2 separate regions of the Homo sapiens genome follow, and region 1 is linked to region 2. Evidence: fine-mapped QTL for protein levels in blood plasma. A gene starts in region 2. The other region holds a variant in brackets. All regions are shown on one strand. Distances are between the middles of the regions.

Region 1 (2,906 bases), 28 kb before region 2:
GTGGCTCATGCCCATAATCCTAGCACTTTGGGAGGCTGAGGTGGGTGGATCACCTGGTCAGGAGTTCGAGACCAATCTGGCCAACATGGTGAACCCCGTCTCTACTAAAAATACAAAAAGTTAGCCAGGTGCAGTGGTGTGTGCCTGTAATCCCAGCTACTCGGGAGGCTGAGGCAGGAGAATCGCTTGCCCTTAGGAGGCAGAGGATGCAGTAAGCCAAGATTGCACCAATGCACTCCAGCCTGGGAAACAGAGCGAGACTCTGTCTCAAAAAAACAAAACAAACAAACAAACAAACAAACAAACAAAAAACCCCTAAAAGTAAAAATAAAAATTATCCAAGTATGATGGTCCATGTCTGTGGTCCCAGTTACTTGAGAGGCTGAGGCAGGAGGATAACTTGTGTCTGGGAGGTGGAGGCTGCAGTGAGCTATGACTATACCACTGCAGTCCAGCCTGGGTGACAGAGCAAAAGACCCTATCTCAAAAGAAAAGAAAAATCCCTAATATCCCGTCACAGAAGGGAAATGTATTTTTCATTGTTTTTAAAGCTCTTTAGCCTCATTTCTTCAGAGAGGAAAAAACTCTGTGCAGAGACAATATCTCCCTATGTTGCCCAGGCTGGTCTCGAACTCCTAGGCTCAAGTGATCCTCCGGCCTGAGCCTCCCAAGTAGCCAAGACTACCAGCATGTGCCAACACACCCAGCTAATTTTTGTATTTTTTTTGCAGAGATCGGGTTGTGCTGTGTTGCCTAGGCTGGTTTCAAACTCCTGGGCTCAAGAAATTCGCTCGCCTCAGGCCTCCCAAAGTGCTGAGATTACAGGCATAAGCCACTGTGCCTGGCTTCTGGAACTGATCTTTCAGGCGGCTGAATCCCTAAAAGATTTCTCTTTACCTCGTTGCAGCCCCAGGACTACTCATGCACAGTATTCCACAAGGTTCATGCTCCATCCAAACAGAAGCCCCCTCAGTGCAAAAACTAAATCATGCTATCTTCCCTACATTATTTATGTACTTGCCCAGTTATTACTTATTCACCAACACCGTAACAAAGATAAAGTAGACTTGAAGAATCACGTATCAATCGTAAATTCATTTTCTTGTGTTTCAGAGCCTTTTGTTGATGACATGCATAAATGTAAATATTTAAAATTGCTAATGAACAGCTATTTATAATGAAACTTCTTTGAGGGTGAGTCCGGAATGAAATTACATTATCCAAACATAATGAGTCATGACTGTATGTCTCACTACATCCTCACATATGTCATGTCACTCAACCCTAAAATCAAACAATGCAGGGTGGATCACAGGGAAGGAAGGCTGTTCTCTAACACATTTCTGCGACCTGATAGCAAACCAAAAAAGATTGTATGGTTTTCTTAGAACTCCTCCAAGTCAGAAGCCTGCCTGGTCTGAGGTATCTTCAAGGGACATTTTCACCATCCTATGGAACTGCAAAGCAGCTCCCTGGTCCTTTCTGAACTGCCTCGTGCTGTCTGAACTGTCCATGACTCTGGGTGAATCAAAGTGAAGATAGGCTCATGGACTATGAGTCACTCTCCCTAAAAGCCCTTCTAAAAGCATAGGATTAGGACCTCAAACTGGATTAGCACAGCCCCTGAGGGAGCAGAAGAGTTGAGCAATGCAAACTCCACAGTGAGTGCCACTCAGAAGATGAATGAAGGCCAGTCCCTGCGCCAACACATTGGGTCCC[T/TCC]CCACCTGTTTCCAGGCATCACCTCTTCTCACAAGTGACAGGAGCATCCCTCTAAACTAGAAAGCCTGCAATGTACAGCAACTTCAAATCAGAGAAACAAACTTCCTCATGATCTTTTTGCCCCTCTATGAATCTAAATCCATTCAGCACGGTGGCCCATGCTTGTATTCCTACTGCTTTGAGAGGCCAAGGTGGGAGGATTGCTTGAGGCCAGGAATTCTAGACCAGCCTGGACAACAGAACGAGACCCCATCTCTACAAAAATTTAAATTAAAAAGTTAACCAGGTATGGTGGTGCACGTTTGTAGTCCCAGCTACTCGGGAGGCTGAGGTGAAAGGATTGCTTGAGCCCAAGAGCTCAAGGCTACCACAAGCCATGATGGCACCACTGCACTCCTGCCTGGGCGATGGAAGAAGACCCTGTCTCTAAAAAAAAAAATGTTTGTTCATTAAAAGAAAATCTGGCCAGGTGTGGTGGCTCACATCTGTAATTCCAGCACTTTGGGAGGCTGAGGCGGGCGGATCACCTGAGGTCAGGAGTTTGAGACCAGCCTGACCAACATGGAGAAAACCCACCTCTACTAAAAATACAAAATTAGCGGGGCGTGGTGGCACTCTCTCTCTCTTTCTTTCTTTCTTGGTGTGATCTTGTCTCACTGCAACTCCGCCTTGAGAATTCAAGTGATTCTCCTGCCTCAGCTTCCCGAGTAGCTGAGACTACAGGCCCACACCACCACACCCAGCTAATTTCCATAGTTTTAGTAGAGACAGGGTTTCACCATGTTGGCCAGGCTGGTCTCGAGCTCCTGACCTCAGGTGATCTGCCCGCTTCAGCCTCCCAAAGTGCTAGGATTACAGCCATGAGCCACCACATCTGGCCAAAACCAGCTATTCTATTCTAAAATACAAGCTACTTTAGACACATTCTTAATTGATGCTGTATTAAGTTGAAGAAAGAAGACAGTTTTAGGACTTTGCTATGCAGTCTTCAAATTACCCTGCATTTGACTTTGGCCTCTGATTGAAAGCATGAAAGATTTGAGGGATCTACTGAGGAGTTCTAGGAATGAGATATACAAGGTCATGAAAAGAGAAGCTGTAAGAGGAGGGAATTCAGGAAAGGCCTACATTAAATGCTTGGGAGGAGAAGACGAAGAAAAGTTACCAGGAGACAGTAAGGAAGAATG
Region 2 (2,858 bases):
GGACAGGAGTGGTGGCTGATGCCTGTAATCCCAGCATTTTGGGAGGCCAAGGCAGGCCGACTGCTTAAGCACAGGCATAAGAGACCAGTTTGGGCAACATGGCAAAACCCTGTTTCTAAAAAACAATAAATAAAATAAAAACAGGCCAGGCGTGGTGGCTCACGCCTGTAATCCCAGCACTTTGGGAGGCTGAGGTGAGCGGATCACAAGGTCAGGAGTTCAAGACCAGCCTGGCTCTACTAAAAATACAAAAGTTAGCTGGGTGTAGTGGCACCTGTAATCTCAGCAATTTGGGAGGCCGAGGCAGGAGAGTTGCTTGAACCCAGGAGGCGGAGGTTGCAGTGAGCCGAGATTGCACCACTGCACTCCAGCCTGGGTGACAGAGCAAGACTCCATATCGAAAAAAAAATAGATAAATACATTTTAAAAATAAAAAATTAGCTGGGTGTGGTGGCTCATGCTTGTAATCCAAGCACTTTGGGAGGCCAAGGTGGGTGGATTACCAGAGGTCAGGAGTTTGAGACCAGCCTGGCCAACATGGCAAAACCCCATCTCTATTAAAAGTACAAAAACTAGCCGGGCATGGTGGCATGCACCTGCATTCCCAGCTACTCGAGAGGCTGAGACGGGAGAACTGCTTGAACCTGGGAGGCAGAGGTTGCAGTGAGCCCAGATTGCACCACTGTACTCCAGCCTGGGTGACAGAGTGAGACTCCCTCTCAAAAAAAAAAAAAAAAAAAGAATTCATAACAGGAAGGTAAAGTGGGTGAACCTCTGAAGCACATTATAACATAAGTAGAGAAAGAGGAAGACAGAGAAAATGTGGAGAGCAGAACAGAAGTGAGAAGTGATCAAGTACTCTCATGAGGTGTGGGAGGGGGGCACTTAGTGGCACCCCACAATCTGCCTTCTGGAGAGACAGATTTCTAACCTTCTGTCTGGACTATGGTGTCAAAGTGCAAGTTGATAATTAACAGAGATTTTTCCTTTCTCTTCATCTCCATGTTCATCTCCAAGGCACTGAACAATGAAGTCAACCTTTTCATAACTGTCCATTTTTAGTTTCATTCATTGCACAAGTGCTTATTGAGCAAGGGATTTTAAGGTGATAAGAGACACACAAACACAGAAGCCCATCCCTGTCCTTAAAGAGCTCCCAATTTGACATAATTTAAATATTCATCTCCAAAGGAATTTAGAGAACCTATCCCAAATCCCAGGTTCCTCTTGGATACAGCATTTTAATCGTCAACACCCAAATCTTGTGATAGAAAAGGGCGGGCACACCAATAACTTGGAAACAACATTTATTTTTAGAATGAGTGCAGTGGCTCAGGCTTGTAATCCCAGCACTTTGGGAGGCTGAGGCGGGAAGATCGGTTGAGTCCAAGAGGTTGAAATCAGCAAGGGCAACATAGCGAGACCCCCATCTCTACAAAAAATAATAATAATTAACTAGGCGTGGTGATTAGCCCCCTGTAGTTCCAGCTACTCAGGAGGCCAAGGTGAGAGGATCCCTTGAGCCCGGGAGTTCGAGGCTGCAGTGAGCTATGATGGCCACTGCACTCTAGCCTAGGTGACAGGGCAAGACCCTGTCTCAAAAAACAAACACAAACAAAAACCCTTATTTTCAAAAATTATGAATTTTGTAAATCTCAGGATTTACATCCCTCTGTTTTTAGTTTTGCAATCCACATAAAACCAAGACAAAACAAAAGCTCTGAGAACTCACCTACTCAAGGTCGCCTTGGCTGCAATTCAGATCACCCGAAAATCCCAAAGCCCAGGCTGCACTTCAGACCAATTAAGTCGGGAAACATCCCAAAGCCCAAGTGCACCTCAGACCAATTAAGTCGGGAATCCAGGCACCCTCAGGTGATTCGAATGTGTAGCCAAGGTTGACAACAACCGCTATAAATCATTCTGCCCTTGAAACGGGAGAACCAGGATCTACATTTTTCAAGAACCAGGATCTATGGCACCGTCACCCTCGTCCCTACACACAGGCCACCAGCAATGTTCCCAGATGCAGTTTTGTGTTTCACGCGGTCAAGAACAGAATCCAATCCTCTCCCACTTGGACAAGTGAGGATGGAGGAAGGTTAATCTAACCCGCCCCGGCCCTGGTCAATATCGCATCCGTGCGGAAGCAGACGCTGGCTCGGCTTTGCGGGCCGCAGAGAAGCCCCCGGACGCCTCTCTCTCCTCCACCTGCTGGGTTCCTGGCTTCGGAATGGGGAGTTGCGGGGGTGGAAAAGAGGAAAGCCCAGCGCCGGGGGACAGGATCGCCATAGGAACGAGCACAGGCTGTCCCCCGAAAGACCGAGACAAAGAGGCGCCCCCCGCCCGAACAAACCGGCGGTACTCACGCAAGTGCCACCCAGCTTGTGGCTCTCCACCACGGCGGCCCTGGCACCCAGCTCGGCCGCCCTGCGCGCGCTGGCCAGCCCGCCCGAGCCGCCCCCGATCACCAGGTAGTCATAGGAGGCCACGGCGCCAGCAGCGGGCGGCGGGCCCTGCGGCTGCGGCTCCTGCCTGCAGGCCATGGCACGGGAGAGGGCGCGCGTGAGGGCCGCGGGCTCGGGCAGAAGCAGCAGGAAGCCTCGGAAGGCGCGCGCCGCCCGCCGCCAGCTCGGTCCCGCGCCGGCGCTCAGGGCTCGGGGCAGCAGGGCCATGCACGCGGAAGTGGCGCGCCAAGTGGGGCGGGCGGCCCGGGGGCGGTCCCCGGGGTAGGGGGGCGCGGGCCCCGGGCAAGCGCAGCCTCACGGTGACTAAGCATGCGCCCGCCGCTAGGCAAGACCCAGGAGGATGCCCAGAGGCGGGGCCGCCTCCCAGTTCCCCGCCCCGGTGGCGGAGCC

Which allele goes with the higher level. Positions count from the first base shown, and alleles are read on the strand shown. Strength reflects both the effect of a copy and how common the allele is.
With allele T in place of TCC in region 1, the plasma level of the protein whose gene starts at base 2,686 in region 2 is higher (moderate association).

Evidence for each region. PIP is the posterior inclusion probability: the model's chance that the variant is causal. Protein levels are from antibody-based Olink assays in UK Biobank. Linkage for the fine-mapping came from a reference panel and not from the study's own genotypes, which makes the PIPs less certain.
Region 1: its variant is fine-mapped to the plasma level of the GSR protein (UK Biobank, PIP 0.98).

The regions. Positions count from the first base shown.
Region 1 is chr8:30,697,145-30,700,050 of GRCh38, forward strand. All of the region lies in intron 6 of GSR (glutathione-disulfide reductase), which reads right to left. Among named protein-coding and RNA genes, the nearest start is that of GSR, 29 kb to the right of the region's middle. The variant T/TCC (reference allele first, on the strand shown) is at 1,720.
Region 2 is chr8:30,725,161-30,728,018 of GRCh38, forward strand. It overlaps GSR (glutathione-disulfide reductase), which reads right to left and starts at 2,686. Exons shown (of 13, transcript NM_000637.5): 1 at 2,370-2,686. The coding sequence starts at 2,675. RefSeq lists an enhancer at 1,584-2,271 and silencers at 2,347-2,786, 2,857-2,858.